Regions from separate parts of the Homo sapiens genome. Here region 1 is linked to region 2. Evidence: fine-mapped expression QTL. A gene starts in region 2. The other region holds a variant in brackets. All regions are shown on one strand. Distances are between the middles of the regions. Region 1 overlaps DTX1 (deltex E3 ubiquitin ligase 1). Region 2 holds the start of DTX1 (deltex E3 ubiquitin ligase 1).

What was found. PIP is the estimated chance that this variant, and not a neighbour inherited with it, causes the effect.
Region 1: its variant is fine-mapped to the expression of DTX1 in whole blood (TOPMed, PIP above 0.99). The same link has a PIP of 0.9 or more in blood mononuclear cells.

The regions. Positions count from the first base shown.
Region 1 is chr12:113,086,914-113,092,285 of GRCh38, forward strand. The region is part of intron 3 of DTX1 (deltex E3 ubiquitin ligase 1); the gene reads left to right. Among named protein-coding and RNA genes, the nearest start is that of DTX1, 33 kb to the left of the region's middle. The variant CAGG/C (reference allele first, on the strand shown) is at 2,634.
Region 2 is chr12:113,053,639-113,059,010 of GRCh38, forward strand. DTX1 (deltex E3 ubiquitin ligase 1) reads left to right here and starts at 3,092. Exons shown (of 10, transcript NM_004416.3): 1 at 3,092-3,306; 2 at 3,811-4,813. The coding sequence starts at 4,555. It also overlaps the pseudogene RPS15AP32. RefSeq lists an enhancer at 4,330-5,118.

The sequences.
Region 1 (5,372 bases), 33 kb after region 2:
CCCCACCCTGCCCCCCACCTGAAGCACTTCCTGCCCTGCTCCCTGGGAGACCAAACCACACACACTCCTGTCTGCACGTGGCTGCCCCGGGCCGTGGGAACAGCCGGTCCTGCCCTCCCCTCCCCTACCTGACCGGTCCTCCCTGCCCCCAACCATCTCCTCCCGTTCCTTCCCCCGCAGAGAGCTGGGCAGGCTGGAGGACCGGGAGGGTTGAAGAGTGACCCCCGCAGCCCCCATACCTCTAGATAAATCTGAGCCTCCAATACCACTCACACCTCAAAATGTCTCCCGAGGGGACTTTTACATCCTTTAATCTCTAGAACATGGAAGTAAGGGGTCTAGAAGACAGAAGTAAGGGGTCCCATTTCACAGAGGGGACACTGAAGCCCAGAGAAGCTCAGAGGTTTGTCTAGGCAGACGGAGGTGCTGGGGTAAGGAAAGGGGAAGTGAGGACCCCAGACAGCAGCTGAGGAGGAGTCCATGGGCACCTGGTCCCCCGGGCTTGCAGCGATGTCCTTCAAGTCTCTGCAGTGGGGGTGGCGGCAGGGACTTGGCCCCAGGCTGTGTTCCCCAGGACTGTGGGGGGAGGAGGGGGAGAAGGCAGCTATGAGGCAGAGACAGCCCTGAAAGTGGGGAAAGGTGACAGGCTCACACCCCTAGAAAGGAGAAAGGGAGAGGGTGGGGGGTCCCTAAAGCACTGTTCAACTTCCTTCTCCCCATAAAGTGACATCCTCACTTCTGCCCCCTCCTCACCCACTTGGCCCCAAATGACTGAGTCCTGAGGCTCCTGGGGCTCTTTGGGGTCTGCTGGGTAAGTGTGAGGTATCCTGAAGGGGGCCAAGGCCAATGGGGGACCTGGAAACTAGCATCAGAGAAAGTAACAAGTCTAGGCCTGCTGGGGGTGGGAGGGGAGAGATAAGGAGACCAGACTTTGGAGGAGGGAGGGGACTTGGCTGCCCTAAAGGGAGGGTCAGTTGTCAGTGTTTCGGGATCCTGGACCCCTCTAGGGGACAGAGAGAGGTGGCCAAAGCAGGCCAATGGATCCAGTTAGACAGCCCTGATCTACCCTGCCCAGGCCTGAGCCAGCTCCAGGATCCAGGTCAAAGACTTCAGCCCACCTGTAGAGCACAGAGGGCTCTCTAGGCTGGCTCAACTCCAGATGGCTCCACAGACCAACCTGGCAGGGTCAGCCCTGGCCCCTGACTCGGAAACTCCAGGACCCAGTGCCAGCTGCACCACCAACCAGCTGGGTGACCTTAGTGAAGTCATTTCCCTTCTCTGGGCTTCAGTCCCATCATCTGCAAAATAAATGACAAATAGAGTTCATCTCATGTGCCATCTCTGCTCCAGGGCAGTGACTTCCTGGAGCACTGTGTTGAGGAGGATTCTGAAGTTGCATCTTGGCTTAGCGGTAAGGCATGCCGAAATTGATTAGTAATGCCTGCTGTGGGTGCTAGGAGGACAGTAGTGGTATGCACTCATATATTTGACATTCCTGCTCTAACTTTGTCTGGCAGAAGAGGCGGCGTGGACCAGATCATACAGGGCCTGGTCATGCTTAAAGAGGGATAACATTAGGAGATATATCTAATGTAAATGATGAGTTAATGGGCGCAGCACACCAGCATGGCACATGTATACATATTTAACAAACCTGCACGTTGTGCACATGTACCCTAGAACTTAAAGTATAATTTTAAAAAAAGACTATAATGTCAGGTCGTGATTAGTGCTATGAAAAAAGAATTCAGTAAGGTAAGGACAAAGATGGGCTTTTTAAAAATAAAGTGGTTGCGGCCAGGCACAGTGGCTTATGCCTGTAAACCCAGCACTTTGGGAGGTCGAGGAGGGAGGACTACTTGAGCCCAGGAGGTCAGGTCCAGACCAGCCTGGGCAACACAGCGAGGCCCTGTCTCCTCAAAAGTTTTGTTGTTGTTGTTGTTGTTGTTGTTTAAGCTGGGTGTGGTGGTGTGTGCCAGTAGTCCCAGCTACTCAAGAGGCTGAGGTGGGAAGATCGCTTGAGCCCAGGAGTTCAAGACTGCAGTAAGCAATGGTTAAGCCACTGCACTCTAGCCAGGACAACAGAGCAAGATCTTGTCTATAAATAAATAACTAAATAAAGTGGTCGGGAAGGTGTCTCAGATAAGCTGACATTTGAGCAGAGACCTGTGCTAAGTGAGGGAGTGTGCCATGAGGATATCTGGGAAGAGCACCTTGGGAAAGGGTCAGCAAGTGCAAAGGCCCTGGGGTGGGAGTGTGCCTGGCATGCTTGAGAAAGAGCAGAGAGACCAGGGTGGCTGGAGTGGAGTGGGAGAGGGGTGAACACATAGGAAATGAGGTTCAGAGGGTAGATGGGGGCCAGATCAGGAGGCCAGGTGTTAACTGTGAGCAAAGTGGGAGCTGCAGGAGGAGTGAGAGCAGAGGACAGATGGGATCTGATTTGGGACTGGGAAAGGCAGAGAGGCTTGCATGGCAGTGGGGCCCATGCCTGCCTTCTGGTCAGAGTAGATTTCGGGGAGGGCCTGAGGGACTCCTCAGGTCCTGTGCCAGCCTGGGCCCCCAAGAAGGCAGAGCTAGGGGTGAAGGCTGGCTCCCCTTCCGGGAGGCCCGCAGGCAGCGGTCGCTTGTCCAGG[CAGG/C]AGGATGTTCTCACTGACTCGGAGGAAACAGCGTGTCCCACATCAAAAGGGGGCCGGGTGGCTCCCACGCTCAGGGTTCGTGGGAACTCTGCTACCCTGGGTTCTCGCAGGAGGCCTGCAGTTAGAGAGAAGCTGGAGACTACCTCGGGACTGTCCCCCAGGCTCACTGATGGGTAAATAAATAACAGTCCCACAGTGACACCCCACTCACAGTGCTCTTCCCAGGAGCAAGACTGACTTTTGTAATCTAGGGCTATGTGGTATTTAAGGGGCTCCAGAAATTTTAGGGCAGCTGAGATCTAAATCCTTCCCTTCCTGGAGTACCCTCTGTCTAACTCCTAGACCAAACACTCAGCAAGAGCAGGGTTACCCACTGGGCCAGACTGGGCATTATATAGACCTGGGGTAGCAAACTGGCTATACTGATTGATAGAGGCTGCTTGGAGAGCTGTACTGAGGACTCTGCTAAGCTTGAGAGAGTGCTGTGATGGATTAGTGATGTCTGCCACAGGCAGGAGACCAACCAGTGGTGGTATGCATGCTCAATATTTTTCTTTCCACCCAATTTATAGGTAGTCCTGGAGAAAAAAAGAGATACTTTCTTCTTGTGAGGCAGAAAGGAAGAAAGAGGGGTGAGGCAGACCTAGACTTAACCAGGTTGTCTGCACTAGAGGTGCTTGAAGAATGGGCAGGAAAGAGGAAAAGCTTGAGGGAAATGCCTCTATGCATTCCTATAAAAGTATAGAGAGGGAGGAAGTTAGAGTGGTGACAGCTGCCCCCCTGAGGAAGGCCCTGGAGGATTATGACAGACCCTGAGAAGGGTCAAATGAATACTCAGTGCCCCTCTTCCTGGGGCCCCCCCGCAGGGTGCCCGACAAGAAAATCAAGACACCTCCACTCTCATCCCTGCGCCAAATGATGAGCTTTACATGTTTTAGCACATTTAACTTTCACAGGACTCTATCCCCATTACAGGTGGGGAAACTGAGGCACAGTGCTTTCTTCCCACCTCCACTGACCAGGTCCTGGGGGACCCAGGGTACCCGCCATCCCATCCTGCCTCCCTCGGGAGCTGTGTTCATTGACTTCCATCACACCGGCGCCTCCTCAAGGGGCTCAATCCAGATGTCTGCTCCAGACCTCTCCACAGCCCTCAGAGGGGTCTGGGATGGGAGTCCTGGCCACGTGATACTATCCTGTATAGCCGAGCAGCCACCAAGTGGGTGTGTGTGCGCTGCACCTGTGTGCATGTGTGATTGTGCCTCTGCATGTGTGCAGGTGTGGGCCTCCCAGGCTGAGTGTCTGTGTGTCAGTGTCAGGAGGTGTGGGTCAGAGCATGTGCGCATGTGTCCTCGTGTGCAGTGAGTCAGCGTGTCCTCCTGCGCCCCCATGCATGATGTGAATCAGTACGCACGAGTACTTCCCCACAGGCGGTGCGGAATCGTGTGTCCGCGTGTGGACGGCAGGCCGTTCTGCAGGCTGCAGCGCGCCGGGGGCTTGTAGGGCTGAGCGCATGCTCCTCTGGGTTTGCTGCCCACCTTACCCAGCTCTGTGCAGCTGGGGAGAGGGGCGGCAGTAGCAGGTGCGGTACTGGTCTACATGAGCCACCGACTCTTGTCCAATGGAGTATCCTCCCAGGGGAGAGCTGTGTGTGCTTCTGTGTGTATGTGTGTGTCCCCGTGTGTGCACAAGTCTCTGTATGTAGGTGTGGGGAGGCATTCCCTGGAATATGTGAGTGTGTGTGTATCTTAATCCATGTATGTTTGTGGGGGGCGTGCCCTGAAGTGTGCCTGTGTGTATCCATGTATATGTTCATGGTGTGCATTCCCTAGTGTGTGCGGTATGTTCCCCAAGTAGACGGATGGGGAGGGAGGCTCCCTGGTATCTGTGTGTCTGTGTGTGCATGTATCTGTGATGTACTCCCTGGGTTGTGTGTGTTTGTGTGTCTGTGTACTTAAACATGTGTGTGTAATGTGTCCCGGGGAGTATGATAAGTCTGTGTGGTCTTCTCCATGCATGTGTGTATATTTGGATCTGTGGATCTGTGTGGATGGTGTGTGCCCTGGGTGTGTATGTCTGTGTGTCTGCACCCACTGCAGCAGTACCCAAGCCTGCCAAGGGCACCATTTGCTTGAAGATGCTTTCTGGTGCCAACTGTGCCTGCCAAGGACAGGTGACCAGACAGCATTAGACAGGCTGTGACCTGAACAGGCACGGCCAGAGCCAAGGGGGCTGCTGCAGCTCCTTCTCCAGCTGTCACTGCTCCCAGCCCTTCCTGCCCCCTCTCCTGGCACATCCCCCAAGGCCTTCAGGCTGACCCCTGGATTTCAGAACACCCCTCTTCATCAGAACGTATCCAGCCTGGGTTCCATGCCCATCAACAGCAAGACACCAGTTCCCCTGCATAAACAGGTGCTGAAGTCAGGAGGACTCAGGCAGACACACTGTACACATCACCGCAAGCTCTCCTTCAGTCCTCCCAACGACTATAAGTGAGGTGTTAATATGCCTGTTTTACAGATAAGGTAACTGAGGATCAAGAAGTTAAGTGACTTGTTCAAGGTTGTCACTGCAGCAGTTTTGTGGTTTCCTCTCTAAGATGGAGAGAAGTTACACCAGGACTTAGTGCCTGGGAAGCAAAGAGGTGAAATTACTCGGCCAGGATTGCACAGCTGACAGTGATGATACCGATGGCTGTGCTTTTAGTAGCTGTTAGGTACCAGGAACTGTGCTTGG
Region 2 (5,372 bases):
AGCTGAGATTGCGCCACTGTGCTCCAGCCTGGTGACAGAGCAAGATTCCATCTTAAAAAAATAAAAATAAAAAGAGGAAGGAAGGAAGGAAGGGAGAGATGGAGGAAGGGAAGCAAGGAAGGTGGGAAATTTCATACATGAATGTATAGATGAATGGATGAATAAATGGATAGATGGATTGATGGATGGATGATGGGTGGGTGGGTGTATGGATGAATGGATGATGGATGAGTGGGTGGATGGGTGAATGACTGGATGGATGGGTGGGTGGGTGGGTGGGTGGGTGGATGGATGGGTGGAATGGATGGATGGAGGATGGGTGGATAGATGAATGGATAGACGGGTGGATGGATAAGTGGATGGTGGATGGCAGAACAAAAAAAATGAGTTGGTCTCTTTCTGCCATCTTTCTGAGCTGCTATAATGGTGCATGTGAACGTCCTGGCCAGTGTTCTCAATAGCATCAACATGCTGAGAAGAGAAGCAAATACCAGGTTGTTTTAGGTTGTGTTCCAAAATCATCATCTAGTTTCTAAGTGTGATGATGAAGTTTAGTTTACATCAGTGAATTTGCAATCATCAATAATCACAGAGCTAGAAAAATCACTGTGGACCTCACAGGCAGGTTAAACAAGTGTACAGTGACAAGCCCCAGTTTGATGTGCAACTCAAAGATCTAGAAAAATGGTACCCCTATCCCCTTTGGTTTCATTGTCCTGACAACCTCAGCTGGTATCAGGGATTGCAAGGAAGCAAGACAAAAATACACAGGAGGGAAAATCCTGGGATTGTTTTTCTAGGGATGTAATAAATTCATATGAATAAAATGCCTCAATGGACCAAAAAAAAAAAAACAGTTCATGATTGATTGCTTTTGCTTTTGTCCTATTGACTTCCCCATTGGTATCTGAGCCATCCCTCCCATGAATTGTGGGCTCCTTGGTGGCCAAATTCCTTCCCTCTCCTTGGAATTCTTTTCTCCCCAAGTTCCCTGGGAGCAGAGTGTTGCATTCCCAGATGTTCCAAACCCAGTTGAGAGGGGCCATTAAGGGCCACTCTGCACCAGATCCTCAGCTGGGTGCCATCCAGTAGTCACTCAACAAACACAGAGGCAGCATGGTGCTATGGGAGGTGCAAAAGCATTTGGGACTCAGACCCTAGCTCTGCCACTTACTCCTTGTGGGAACTTGGGTAAGCTACTTAGCCTTTCTGAGCTTCAGGAGGTTTTTTGTTTCCTTGTGTAAAATGAGGACAACATTACCTTCCTTGTGGGGCAGTTATGAAGAGTAGTAAGTATTATTTAAGTGCCTGGCACATAATAGGCACTCAGTAAATGACACCCTTATGTAATGGGGCACCAGCCACACCACACCAAGATGAATATGATGGCTATCTCACTCTAGCAGGGACAGATTTCATTTAAGAGGCTAATTGTGATACAGGGTGTCATGTCAAGGTATGGGCAAAGGAACACAGAGGAAGATGGGGTGAATTCAGGAAAGGCTTCCTGGAGGAGGTGACATTTAATCAGACCTTAAATAGCATTCGACAGGAAGTCCAGAGACACGAGTTCTTCTTTCCAATTTGCTGCTAAATCACCATGCGACCTTGAGCCAATCTCTTCTCCACTGTGGGATCCCCAGATCCTTCTACAACATAAGCTGGTTGAGCACCTGCTCTGAATCCGTTCAGTCACAGTCTCCTGTGAGAAGAATCTGCTGACAGCCAGAGCCCTTCTTCCCAGACATACAAGACACACAATGCCTAGACACACAAGTTTGCCTGTAATGGGAGAGGGGGACTTCATGGACCCCAGAAGGCCATCCAGGGACCCTAGGCTAAAATCCCAGAACTCAGTGATCCTGTGGGAGTATCGTCAGACTTGGCCCTGCCCTATGCAAAGCCTCTCTCTTTAGTCTACAGCAGGTGAAAGCAAGCAGAATCATTGACCCAATCTGAAAAAGCCCATCCAACACTGGGCTGCAGGTCAGAGCAGGGGCCTGGGGAGGGGAGGTCCCTCCAGCTGGCCGGAGAGCCAGAGCTGGATTCTGGGAAAGCACCCCTGAGCAGCCTGCCCCTGACCCTGCCTAGTGTATCCCCATCTGCCCCGGGGAGGCAGGCGTGGGCTGCTCTGGGCAGGCGCCCAAACAGGCCACTGACCCCCGTCAGCCACCCAGGCTGGAGTTCCCGGACGCATCCTTCATCTTCCCCAATCTAAACACCCCCAGGCCCCAGGTGGTCCACCCCCCTCCCAGCCAATGTGTGTCTCAGCCGCATCCAGCTTGCTGGAGGACAGGGGGACTGGCCATCCCGTTAACACTTGAGCCGCTGCCATTTCCAGCCTTCCCTTCCATCCAACCAATGCTCACCCACCATTTATTGAGCACCAGTTGTTTGCAGGTGGCTGTGAATGACATGGCAGAGGGCCTGCCCTTCTCTTCCTCCAGGATCTCACCTCCTGGCCAGGGTCCCCTCCCCTGGTCCCACCCCTCTCACCTGGAGCAGGTGGGTGCTTTGGGGGAAGTGGGCTCAGGGCTGGGAACTGGGTACTGGCAGGAGATTCAGATCGGGGTTGGTGTCTGGGCATCGCTCTAAGCTTTTGTGATCCTGGGCCTGGCTCTTACTCTCTCTGGCTTCAGTCTCCTCATCTGTACTCTTCAGATTCCACGGTTCCAACTGAGTCTGAATCAGGCCTTGTCAGCACCCTCCCACCCCCAGGAATAGTTAGAGGAGGAAAGGAGGCTAGCTCTGAATGCTTCAAGATCTTTCTTTAGACAGTCTCTGGATCTTATTCATTCATTCAAGCATTTATTGAGCACCTATTCAGTGCCAGGCCCTGGACTGGGAGACTGGAAATAAAGATGACAAAGATTCAAGCCGGTGACTCCTAAACATCCCACTCCCTGCCTCACGCTCTGCTTGGGGTCAGAAGGCCCCTTGGGGTCTCGGGAGGGCCTGGCCGAGGATTTGGGGCGCCCCGAGACTCGCGTGTCAGCGCCGGTGGCGCTCAGGGCCGAGATCTGTCTCCTCCCCTTCCTCCTCCTCCGCCCCCTCCCCTCTCCCTCCCGGAGCACGGCCGAGGCCTCCTCCCACCCGCGAGATCCCGGCGGCCGCCAGCCGGCTCCTGCGTCCGTCCGTCGGCCGGGCAGTCTGTCCACGCGCGGAAAGCTCGGCGCGGCGGCCGAGGGGCCTGGGAGGGAACGGGCGCGGAGGCGGGACCGCGGCTCCCTCCCACTCCGGGGGGAGCCCAGGAGGCGGCGGTGCTGGAGCGCGAGCCGGAGCCGGAGCCGGAGACGAAGAGAGGCGGTGAGAACGCGGGTGCTTAGGGACCCCACCCCCGGCTCCCGCTGGGGGCCCGCGAGCGGCTCGGGGACGTCTGGGCTGGGGAAGCGGGGCTGTTACCCCCAGGGCGGGAGGCAGAGACGATCCAGCTCCTGGCTTCGCCCCCTCCGCGACGCGACCCCCGAGGGGCCCTGGGCCGCGCCTGCAGCGCCGCGCATCCCCGTGCTTCCCGGCGCACCCCAGCGCACCCGGCATCCCCCCGGCAGGGCGAGGGCCCCGGGGGAAGGGAAGGCTCCGGGAGCCAAGGAGGGCGCCCCCCAGGCGGAGAGTCTCGGAAAACCGCGCCCCCGGCCCCTGCCTTCCCTCCAGGCCTGCCCCAAGGGAAAGCGGGCGGGGCGACCCCGTACGCCCCCCTTGCTGTCCCCCTTCGGTTCCCCATTGTTCTCAGCCGAATGCTCTCCTGGGAAGGGGGGAGGGGGTGCTGCGCTCTCCTCTTAAAGGGCCCTCTCCCCTCTTGTCTCCTGGCAGGTCGCGAGCACGAGTGGGGTGGGGCGTGCCCACGGGCCCCCGCCCCCCTCGTCCCCCTCGTCCCCCAGCCCAGCTCCGGAGCCGCAGTCCAGGCGCGCCGCCCGAGGGTCCACGCCGCACCCCTCCCCCGTGCGTTCTGCGGCCACCCAGGCCTTCCAGGACACCGTGGAGAGGGAACAAGGGGGCAGGGACGCCCCCTTCGGCAGGAGCCGTCGGAGAAGGGGGCCCAGACCGGAGGGAGGCGAGAAGCCCCACTGAAGCCGGGCGCAGGGTCTGGGACGCAGTTGGGAGTGCAAAGGGCTGGCTGAGAGCCGCAGGAGCAGCAGGCTGTGGCCCAGGCCTCCTGGGTGACAGGCCCTGTCTGGCGGGGAAGAGGGACCAAGAGACAACACGGAAGAGGCTGGACCTCGAACAGGGGCGGCTGCCTCACTCCCTACCTGAGCCAGCCGAGGGGGCCAAGGACTTTAGAGCTGTTTCCTCCGGCATAAGAGAGACACTTGCTTTCCAGGGCAGCACCCTTTATCGGAGAAGGCTCTACAGGGAAGGGGTCTTTGCAGCCTGGATGGCCATCCCACATTCCTTTAACGGAGGTCTCTAGGCCTCAGAGAGAACCCAGAGTTAGAAAGGAGGCCAGACGGTCCTTGCTGTCCCCCTGGGGAGAGAGGAAGTTGCCGCCTGCTGCCAGGCCCAGGAGGAGCTGGGCCTGCAATAGTGGGGGACCTGGCCCCTGAGGCAGTGGCGGCCATGTCACGGCCAGGCCACGGTGGGCTGATGCCTGTGAATGGTCTGGGCTTCCCACCGCAGAACGTGGCCCGGGTGGTGGTGTGGGAGTGGCTGAATGAGCACAGCCGCTGGCGGCCCTACACGGCCACCGTGTGCCACCACATTGAGAACGTGCTGAAGGAGGACGCTCGCGGTTCCGTGGTCCTGGGGCAGGTGGACGCCCAGCTTGTGCCCTACATCATCGACCTGCAGTCCATGCACCAGTTTCGCCAGGACACAGGTGAGCAGACACCCACCCCATGCCACCCGCCCCGCCGAGCCATCACTACCTTGCAGCGTAGGATGCTGAAAATCCCAGTAAATCTGCTGATGCCAAATCCCTTCCCCATCTCCCTGCCTCACCTCCAGAAAAACAGGGCAGTCTAACCTTGTCCAGTTTAAGACTTGGATTCCAATGCAGCCTCTGAGCAAGCTGTAGGGCCTTGAGCAAGTTGCATCATCTCTCTGAGCCTCAGTTTCCTCATCTGCAAAATGGGTAGATCAATATCTCTCACAGCTGAGTGAGGATTAAATAAAATTGTGCTCACTGAGCACAGAACCTAGAACAGCAGTAGCATGGGATTGTAGAATAAGGGCTTTACATGCACTTCCTCATTTGATTTTTCCCAAGAATCACAGGCAGTAAGTCTGTGTATTGTTGTATTATTATGAGTCCCATTTTATAGATGAAGAAACCGAGTCTCCCAGAAGCTGAGTGATTTAAACTCAGAGCTGGGATTTAAACCCAGGCGGTTGAGTTCCAGAACCAAAGTTCTTAACTGGTATCCTATACTGGCTCC